2 linked regions of the Homo sapiens genome follow. The protein of the gene in region 2 interacts with the protein of the main gene of each other region in a biochemical or structural test. Each region holds a gene or a part of one and is shown on either strand. Other genes may lie near its edges.

What was found.
Region 1: the proteins of EPB41L3 (region 2) and SPTBN1 form a complex in vitro, tested with the Homo sapiens proteins (one study listed by BioGRID).

The regions. Positions count from the first base shown.
Region 1 is NC_000002.12:54,669,296-54,671,952, forward strand, and holds the end of SPTBN1 (spectrin beta chain, non-erythrocytic 1), read left to right. Parts: 3' UTR 1-2,151; downstream 2,152-2,657. UniProt on the Homo sapiens protein: Fodrin, which seems to be involved in secretion, interacts with calmodulin in a calcium-dependent manner and is thus candidate for the calcium-dependent movement of the cytoskeleton at the membrane.
Region 2 is NC_000018.10:5,393,975-5,401,011, forward strand, and holds part of EPB41L3 (band 4.1-like protein 3), read right to left. Parts: coding exon of another isoform or gene 6,995-7,037; intron 4,170-6,994; coding exon 4,047-4,169; intron 3,453-4,046; coding exon 3,084-3,452; intron 2,359-3,083; coding exon 2,227-2,358; intron 1,734-2,226; coding exon 1,635-1,733; intron 1,174-1,634; coding exon 1,093-1,173; intron 820-1,092; coding exon 709-819; 3' UTR 703-708; intron 1-702. UniProt on the Homo sapiens protein: Tumor suppressor that inhibits cell proliferation and promotes apoptosis. Modulates the activity of protein arginine N-methyltransferases, including PRMT3 and PRMT5.

The DNA of each region.
Region 1 (2,657 bases), on a different chromosome or scaffold from region 2:
AAGTATAATAAAACTAGATGTATAATAAACCCTTTAAATCATTGGTAAGTGTACAAGTGGTGGAACTGAAGCATTTACTGGACAAAGTAATGTTACTCTAATGGTTACTTGCTCGTGCGTTGCCACACTGTGTTATAATTTGCTTCATTTCCTTGCTATTTGATACATAGTGTGCATTTCTCTGTCACTGTAACTATTGTAATGACAAATTTTCATCTTACTGCACAATCAAAATGACATTGATAGGAATGAACTCCAGAGGCTGGGCCTGAACAGGGAGGTGGTCGCTCAGGCCTGGTGCTCAGTCGTACGACCTGTACCTCTCAACTTTTGCCCTATCTGTTAAATATATGCTATGTCATTAAATGCTTTTAAATCTAGCACGGTGACTAGTTGTTGTTCTTCCTCTGCTGCGTGTGCATGCCCAGTAGGGAAACTGCAAAGGGAGAAATGACAAACAAGAAACATTTTACAACCAGTCTGGGCTCACTTTTGCATTTTTTATGCATGTCTGGTGCACAAGCTTTGAAAACTACAGCAAACAGTAATAAATGTGACTGTTTTGTAGTTATACATTCAGGCTTTATCTTTTATTTATGAAAAAGTTACCAGAGCACTTGTGAAACCTGAACTCTGAGATAGGGGTTGGCAAATTTGTTCTGTAAAGGGACAGAGATAGTAAATATTTTAGGCTTTGTAGGCCGTAACTGTCTCTGTTGCTCAATTCTGCTGTTGCGTAATACAAAGGCAGCCATTGACGGTATGTGAATGCCTGGGCATGGCTGTGTTCCAGTAAAACTATTTAAGGACATAAATTTGAATTTCATATAACTTTGACATGCCATACAATATTTTGATTTTCTTAATGATTTCAAAATGTAAAGTCTATTTTATACAGATCAGACCAAAAAGAAGAAAAAAAAAAAACAGGCAAGAGGTTAGGTTTGGCCCATGGGCCATAGTTTGCTGACTTCAGCATAGAGTCGTGGGTTATTTACAAGTGACATACTTTTCCTGGGTTATCTGGGTATGTTGACTCCATGCCACTTGCATAAAGCAGCAATGGATATTAGTATTATGGATGTCCAGTAAGTTATTCCACAAAGACCATGCCTAAGGTGGCATCAGCCCTGGGCTCCACAGCTGCGTGGCATCAAAGCTTTCTCTTAACTCTCTTACCTCTAGGCAAACTGAGACCTCACCATCCTCTCCCCTGCTTCCCACGACAGTCCTTTGCCCTTGCCATGCTCAGGGTTGGAATCAAGTTGTTCTATTCTCAACAGACCAAAATGTTTAGTTAAGGCAAAGTATCTTGGAAACAATTGTGATTAATTACAGTCTTGTACTCTTGACAAAGCTGTGCAGATGGCAATAAGTTCATACCAGCAATCCTGGAGTCCCATAATAAATACGTACATGTGGAACATCGTGCACATAATTTCAACAGTTCGCAGATCTGTAGTTATGAAGCCAGGGTTTGGTGGTATTTGCTCTCTCTTGGTGCATTTGATAAGGATCCACTGAGGCCTGAATGTGGAAGATGATGGGCAGCGAGAGGAGCGTCAGAAGACCCCAGTCAAGACGTGTTCGCCATCAGAGGTTACAGGCCGCACAGCCTGATGAGCTTCAAGCCTGGCAGGGTAAATAGTTTTTGGGTTTTTTGTTTTTTTTTTATTCTTCCACTATCATGTTTTTTGAGGATTTTGCATATTTCTTGTTGCCATAATGCTGTGCTATTTTACCCTGATTTTCAGTGATACAATATGGGTGACAATACTGGCCCCTCCATAAATCTGAAGAGTAAGAAGTAGTGAAAATAAGGCTTAGGATATGAAATGGCGTTGTCACTTGAATCAAGGCCACTTTTTGTCCTACTTGAGCATCTCAAGTTGGGATGCATCTTCTGATGGCACTTCCGGAACTGGCTGTGGTTTTTTTGGGTGTACCGAGAGTGCCAGTGACTGTGCTTCTTACAATTCCTGGCATCTTGAGTAGGTGAAACACTGTATCAGACTGGGTGATGGGCACATTGTCATTTCACCAAGTTCCTGGAACTGTTAGAATTGCTTGTGTATGGGGATCCTATGTTAGTTCCCCTGGATACATTGTTTTATCAGTCGGAATTCTTAAATAAAGACATACTTCCCTTCATGTAGTGGTGCAGTCCATGTAGAAAAGGCAGGATCAATGCTGGAGTCTTTCCCATTATTTGCATTACTTTCCTATAATCAGCGTTATTTATGAGTTGGTTCCTATCCTCTAAAGATGAACAATTTTTTAAATATTATGAATTTATGGGCTTAAATATATTTGAGTTTTCTGGTGAAATCCTCGTTTTTTGGTGAATATGTTTTATAATTTTGAATTGACCTTTCTAAACATGGTCCATAACACAAAAACATATTTTAACAAAGAAGAAAAAAGACTTCTTTCCATCAAAGCTCAATAGAGATTTCTGTCTATTGAAGATCATGGTGAAATATTTCATTTTCCACTAGAATAGTTTAAAATTATTCATTTGCTTTATTCCATGTTATAAAAACTCAGAATAGCAATACTAATACTACCACCACCAATAACTGAGAACAGTTTTTTTTTTTTTTTAACTCTTTATTTTGCAATACTTGTATACTGACATGCAGTTGTAAGAAATAATA
Region 2 (7,037 bases):
ATAGTCTGCTCATGATGCTGGCCAAACAGTCACTGGAAAGGTATGTGCTTTCTACAGGACCACAAGACTGCATTTTTTTTGCCTCCTTCTGAGACAGTGCTACGCTAGGGAGAAAAATCATCCCAAAGAATACAGGAAATATAAGACATCCAAAAAGAAAGTGAGTGCTCAGCTTTCAAATTAAAAAAACAAAACTAAAGACAAAAGCATAAACAGGTTACAATCAAACACAGTTGAAGAGAAAGCTTACGACGGGATAATGTTGCCATCAGAAGGAGAAAGGGGTATATATTATTTCCCTAGTATTTGGAACACACAAATTGAGCCTCTCAGAGCAAAACTGCCTTTGTTCCAATTAGGCCACATGGCAAGTAAAATCAAATTTGCCATTACAAATTTGGATAATCAAAGAGTGCAGGCCATGGAATAAAAGGGAACACCAGGAAGACCACACAAGCATAGAAGCATAGACTCTGCTCTTCCTTTATCCTCTAACTGGCAGTGCATGCAAAAACTCCACAAGAATGGAAGCTCCAAATGTGAGACAAACCCATAAACCAATTCTCCATCCTCTTGGTAACCAGCCCAACAAATGCCAGTGAGAGAACAGAGGAAAGGAGGGATCAGGTGAAGGATGAGAGGGAAGTGCCCCATGCCTCATGCCAGCCTAGGCAAGCCTAGAGAATCGGCATCACCTCTTACCTCTGGTCAATCCTCTCCATCTTCTGGTGTGATCTCTGTCTCTTTATGGACCACTACTTTGGTCACTGACATGTCAGGGTGCTGCTCTTTGGCCTCTTTAATTGCCTGAGCCAGCGCCTATCCCCGGGAAATCACAGAAGGGCAGAAACAAAAAGGAGGTGGAACATGCATGATCAGTGGTGAGGTGGAGACTTATGAGCTAGATCTATATCCACAATTTACAAATGAGGTACAATGATTACAAAAGGAATCATAAATCATATATTGGAAAGTTAATTCGGAATTTTCTTCGGAATACATGCTGGACTAGAGGAATAGCATTGAAACTGTAGGACCAACAGGTTTTTCTTTGTTTCTCTGCCAGGGTATTTACCGTCTCACACACACTACCTGGTCATGGTCAATGTCTGCATCCCCCGTGATGACTATTCGCTTCTCAATTCTTGTCTCTGAAATGCCCCCTTTCACAGTCTGCAAGACACGTAGAGAAGCTTTATGAATTTACTCACTGGGAGAAACCATCATGGTTCAGTAGGGGGAAATGGCCGAAGATGCTGACATCATTCACTCTTCGAGAATTGAAATTAGAGTTCTATGGCACTTATTTCACATTTTTAATTCCAGAGGTGAGGACGGAATGGAGGCCCTTGGGTCTGGATGGCCCATGTTTCTGGAACACTACCACATGCCAAGCACTGGAGTAAGCATTAAGCTTAGGATATCAGAATGTATATTCCTAAAGGGGAACTCGCACGTGAGGACAAGTGCATCGTAAATCTAGGGGCTGTAAAAGCTCCCCTTGCAGCTATCCCGGCGTCCTGAGCTTCAAGCCACCTTGTGCTTGTGCAGCCCAACCTGTGAGGAGTTCTGAACAAGCACCTTCCTCCAGCTCGCTCTCAAGGAATCCTCTTCTCGGTTCTCACTCCACTTACTTTGGTGATGTGCGTAGTGGTGGTGGTACTGGTGGTTTCAGATGTGATCGTCTGTGCACTCATCAGCACGCCTGGCTCCAGATCTGTGCCTGGATCGACCTAAAGCAGCAGAGGCATAGACCCCTCATCCAGGTGCTCACATCTGCTCTTCAGAAGTTGGCTACGTTATTTAAGGCATTACGACAATTTCACTATCTCCTATTATGCAATCATTATGCTCTTCAGAGTCTGAGCGCTGCTCCCAAGAATAAGTACTAAGTGCAACCACAGGTAACTGTCATTAAAAAAACTAAGGTTTCAGAAATGTGAGTGGTGGATGGGTGAGTGAATATTTTTCTTTCTCTGTGGCTAGGGAAACAGGTTTCTGAGCCTTTTTCTACACTTCAAGACACATAAAGACTTGGTTAAGTCATCTGCTGCTCCCTGATCACTAATAAAATGACCATTATTGCATCACTTTTAATAGAAATGGTCTGGCTGCTGGATCCTCTAAGTCTCATGAATTAAATATCGTGCAGTTCTATGTAAACACACTAGGCCATAGAGGGGTGAAATAAGCAGCCAGGGCTCTGGTCTTCACAGAATATCTCACCTGTGATGATTCATATGTGATGGTTTTGGTTTCGGTGTGAACTACTGGCACTTCCTTCGTGGAAATTTCTAGCTTTACTCCTCCCGGTGAAACACTGCCAAAACTGATGGTTTCCGTCTTCACCGTTGAGGACTGTGCCAAAGGGGAGTAAGCAGAGTGGCTGTTATAGTTTGCATGAACACATTGTTTTCTTCCTTTTCCTCTCTTGGTGGTTATAAGCACAGGTTAGTATGCTATAAATGTTTATGTAGAGAGTAAGCTGGGGAATGAGGCATACAACATGCACATGTCAGTCTCCTGGACTCTCATAGCACTTTTATATGAAATGCTCCAAGTAAAGCAAAACATTTTGAAGGCAATAAAAAAAAGTTTTCTATTTAATAACTTCTTAGAAAGAAGAAACTAATAATGAGACATTAACTCCCCAAATACTTCAGGAATCTCAATAAAAGAGGATAAAGAATAAAGTTCTGGCATTTAGGACCCGGGTAAACATGGTTTTGGTGCTTCTGGAAAAGTGCACTGATAAGAAATAAATGTATCACATTTTCTAATATCTTGGCCAACTTTGCATTTCCCAATTTTACTGCCAATTATAATAATTTCAGTGAGAGTAGAAACCATTTCCTGGTGCCATATTATTAATAATTAAGAGATATGTTTGCATGTGACACCAAAGCTGGAAATCAGTGTGGAGACTCCTACTAGGTATGAAAGAAGGAAATGAGAGGAGAAATACACTATACATGGGAGAGGCAGAAAATTAAACTTAGCTCCACCTTTATGCTGATCTAAATTTCCAGGCATCCTATATCAGTTTTATTTTAGTGATAAAAGTAACATTTACTACTAGTTACCTCAAAATGAGGTTTTTGTTCCAAAGTTTCTGAAATGTGGATGGCTGCACTCTGCTCCTCTTGTCGCTCACGGGAAGCAGCGGCTGTCTCTTCCTGTTCCAGGACAGCTTTAGCGACCTCCTCCCCTCCTTCCTCTTTAGCCCCCTCCGTCAAGGCAGAGCCCTCTTTCCCTTTAATGCCTGTGAATGCGGGCTGTGCTGCAGCATCCCCGCTGTCTCCCGCCGAGTAAGAAGCATCCCCACTCGCGTGCACCACACGCCGCTCCTCCACCAACACGGTCTCCTGCACCACCTTCTCAGTGCTAAGCGGCAGGTGGTGCACGGTGGGTTCCGTCTCTATTCCACTGGACTCCGTCTTGGTTTCCATTTTCTGCATGGGAAGAGATTGTGGCATCAGTGTGACCATCCATAAACCAAAGGTCAGAAAATAACTAAAGCTGCCACTCGCCAGGATGTCTAAAGCCAGCAGCAAGTGCTTATAACCAGAAACACTGACGAAAAATATAAATTAGCTTTCATTTCTCCCACTGAAATCTCTGATGCCTGCCCCTGCCCCTGGTGCATGCACTTGAACCTGCGCTGCTGCTTCAGGACATCCGCAAAACAAACGGAAGGCAGGATAAAGTGCAATTAACAAAACAAAAACCAAAGCATTGCAGCGCATTCACGTTGGTTTTGGCTGCTTTCTTAGACTCAACTGGTGAGACATAATGCTTTTAGATATTTAATTCTATTAAAATTTCTCAATATGATCGCCTTTCGAATAGTGAAGTACATTCTTGAGATGCAACTAAAGGCATGTGACAGATATGCCAAGCAGACACAAAGGACAATAAGTGAAGACACCTTTGAGATGTTGAAGGCAAAGCCAGCTGGATGCAACCACACACTCACGCCCAAAAAAAGGGTAAGGAAAGGCACATGGGCACATTCAGAAACACCAAGGACGAAAACAAATGGCCACCTGAACCCAGCTTTGAGAAGTAGAAGTAACCCCTCCTATGAATTCTGTTGGTTTTCGCGCAGACTCTAATAAACTGAAGATTTCAGAGCCATCCATGAGCTTTTCCCCAGAAGACTGCTTAGTCTGAGTGAACAAAGAGAGGCAGAGTCAAGCACAAAAGAGAGACACAAACTCAGGCACATAAACATTCACAGCTTGTTAGACAAAATCGTAGGCAGAGGAGACAGGGAGGAGGAAGAACGAAGGAATCTCAGAGTTTGGAAACGAAAAGAATGGGAAATAAAATAGAAAACCAGGTGCTCTTGTTTGGTAAAGCAGAGACGGTTATTAGGATCAGGGTGGCGCCGATTTAAGCAGATATATATATTTTTTCCCCTTCATTGCAAGCCACAGCAGCACTATCACATCTTGGGAACAGGGAGCTGGAAATAAAATGGAAAGTGTTTTAATGCTGACTTTGCACTGCGGTATTGATTTAACCATGAAAAAAAATTAAGAAGCTGGGTTGGCTGCTCTCAACATAAAGCCAAGCAGCAAGAGAAACGGAAAGGTTTGGGGTGGAAGGGGACTGCCTCAAAAACTGTCATGCTGGAATTGCAAACTGTGGCCCCAATGAGTGACACTGGTTACCACTACTCGGGAGGCGGATGACTCAGTAACGTAATGGGCAGTAGCAACGGTAAAGGCTGGTTCCTGGGAATATCTCCATTCGGACAGGCTCTTCCTTCGGGGACCAAAGAGGCCCACTTTTAAGACCTCACTCTCGGGCACTTGCTCTGTTTTGCTGAAGCGTCTGCCTTCCAGGCCAGGGAGGACGGCCACATCCTTCTCCAGCTGTGGAGCCTTCTTGAGGTCATCTTCTTCAGGACTCTGCCGGCGAGACTCGGCCTCCTTGATGGGGGCCAGGGATTCGGACAATTTCCGCTGTGTCGTCTGGACCTCTGGTCCTCTCTTGGATTTCTCATCAGCGAGGGTTTCCAGGACCTCATATTCTGCCAGGCCGGGAATGATCTTCATGGACTCTGGTATTTCTTTCTCCATTTTCTGAAGTGCTTCTGTAGTGGAGGGCTGCTCCACTTTCTCACCCTCTTTAGCTTTCCCAGTCATAGTAACAATTCTCCCGGAGACAGTGTCATAGGATTTTCCTAGAGTGTATATTTTCTGTTTGCTGTCTTCTTTCAGTTGCATTTCTCGAGCCAATTCTTCGAAGCTTTGCATTTTAATAGTGCCAGATTTTAACATGTCAGCTGGGAGATCACCAGTTTTACTGCTCACGGTCACCACCTTGTAAGTCACAATCTTTTTCAAATCACCATCAACTACCTCAGTTGGTATTCTGTCTACAATAACCCAATCCTCTGTGCCCTATATTTGAAATATAAAAGCTAAATTAGAAATTCTGATGGTATCTCATTTCTAAAATAAGAATCCTTTAAGAAAATCAGGGCAACTGCTACATGCAGGTCTGTGATGGGACCATACAGTGCTCATGTTATTATCTAATAATTATGGCTGCAATCTCTTCTCCTCTGAAATGATAAACTATAAACTTCAGCTCAGAATACATTCGGTAGGTAGAGTTGCAACTTCTTTAAACTGGAACATACTTTGCAGTAAATTTTTTGAAGAACAGATTTGCTCTTATGATAAATTTTGGATCATTTTATATTTCAAGATTAAATAACATTATTGATGTTGCTCTATAAGTTACTTAGCTTTACATGTGTGGGGATAAAAGTTTTCCTCGTTAAATATAATCTATACTTCATATACTGTTATCACAGAGAGCTTCCCAACATTCTACAAATTTATGTAAATATTTTCCATATTTGTAAATTGTATTTCTTTATACAGGGAAATGAATCCATAATAGCACTTATTATTCAATAAATATTGAGTGTGACTGTGTTCAAGGCATTGTAATGAAATATTTCCCACAAATAGGACACTATTAGAGCCTCTTACAGTGATCTGTACAGTGTTCGAGTCTTACATTTTTTTTTTAAAAGATGGGGTCTCCCTATGTTGCCCAGGTCGGCCTCGAACCCCTGGGCTCAAGTGATCCTCCCATCTCAGCCTCCCCAGGAGCTGGGACTACAGGCACATGCCATTGTGCCCGCTCCAATCTTATTTACAACTGAAGTTCACTGTCTCAGGAGTTTCTCTCTCACTTTCTTTAGTGTTAGTTCCAATAAGGCAAAAGAAAGGAAAGCTAAGAAACTTTTGTATTCAGGGAGGCATAATACAATATGACCAGGTAGGTTAATAGCTTCACAGATTACAGAGGGAAGAGATATCAAACCAGGAGCAGGTGAGTGCCCTGGTTTACATTTTAAACTAGAATGTTTTCTAGAAACTTTTCTGTTTTTTACAGCCTGAAAACTTAAATCTAGAAATACGTGTGCCTTTAAAAATACCACTACAGATTGATCTACATGTTGTTGCTAGATTAAATGAAATGAATTGAAAGAATAACCTCTAGGGTTGATGGGACAGTTTTCTGGAAAATTATTTGACGAGAAGTAACCACAGAGTCAGCAGAGTCTCCTTCCTGCATTTTCTTTATCACACTTGGCTAGTGGGGAAACCAATAAGAATTCAGAACTTTCAAAATCAGTCAACTTCATCTAAATTAGCACGACTCTACAGGTAAAAACAGGCAGTAAAACAACATTTCAGCAAGATTATTATCAGAAAGTAAGTCAATGACAACATACAGAGAAAAATCAGCTTGGATTAGAAGCCATGAAGAAATGATGCATAACTGATAACTAAAATATTAAGAAAATTCAATTTTCCCTTCCCCAGAATCTAAATCAAAATTATGTACCTACCTTGGTTTTAAACAAGATAAATGTTAAAGGGAAAATAAAAACTAAGAGCATTTTAATGACACTGAAGTCTGAAGACCAATTTCTTCTGGAAAATCCTTTATGTTTGGTTTTTACCTGAGACTCAAGGAATGGAGCGCTTCCTTGCTGCAAAAATATA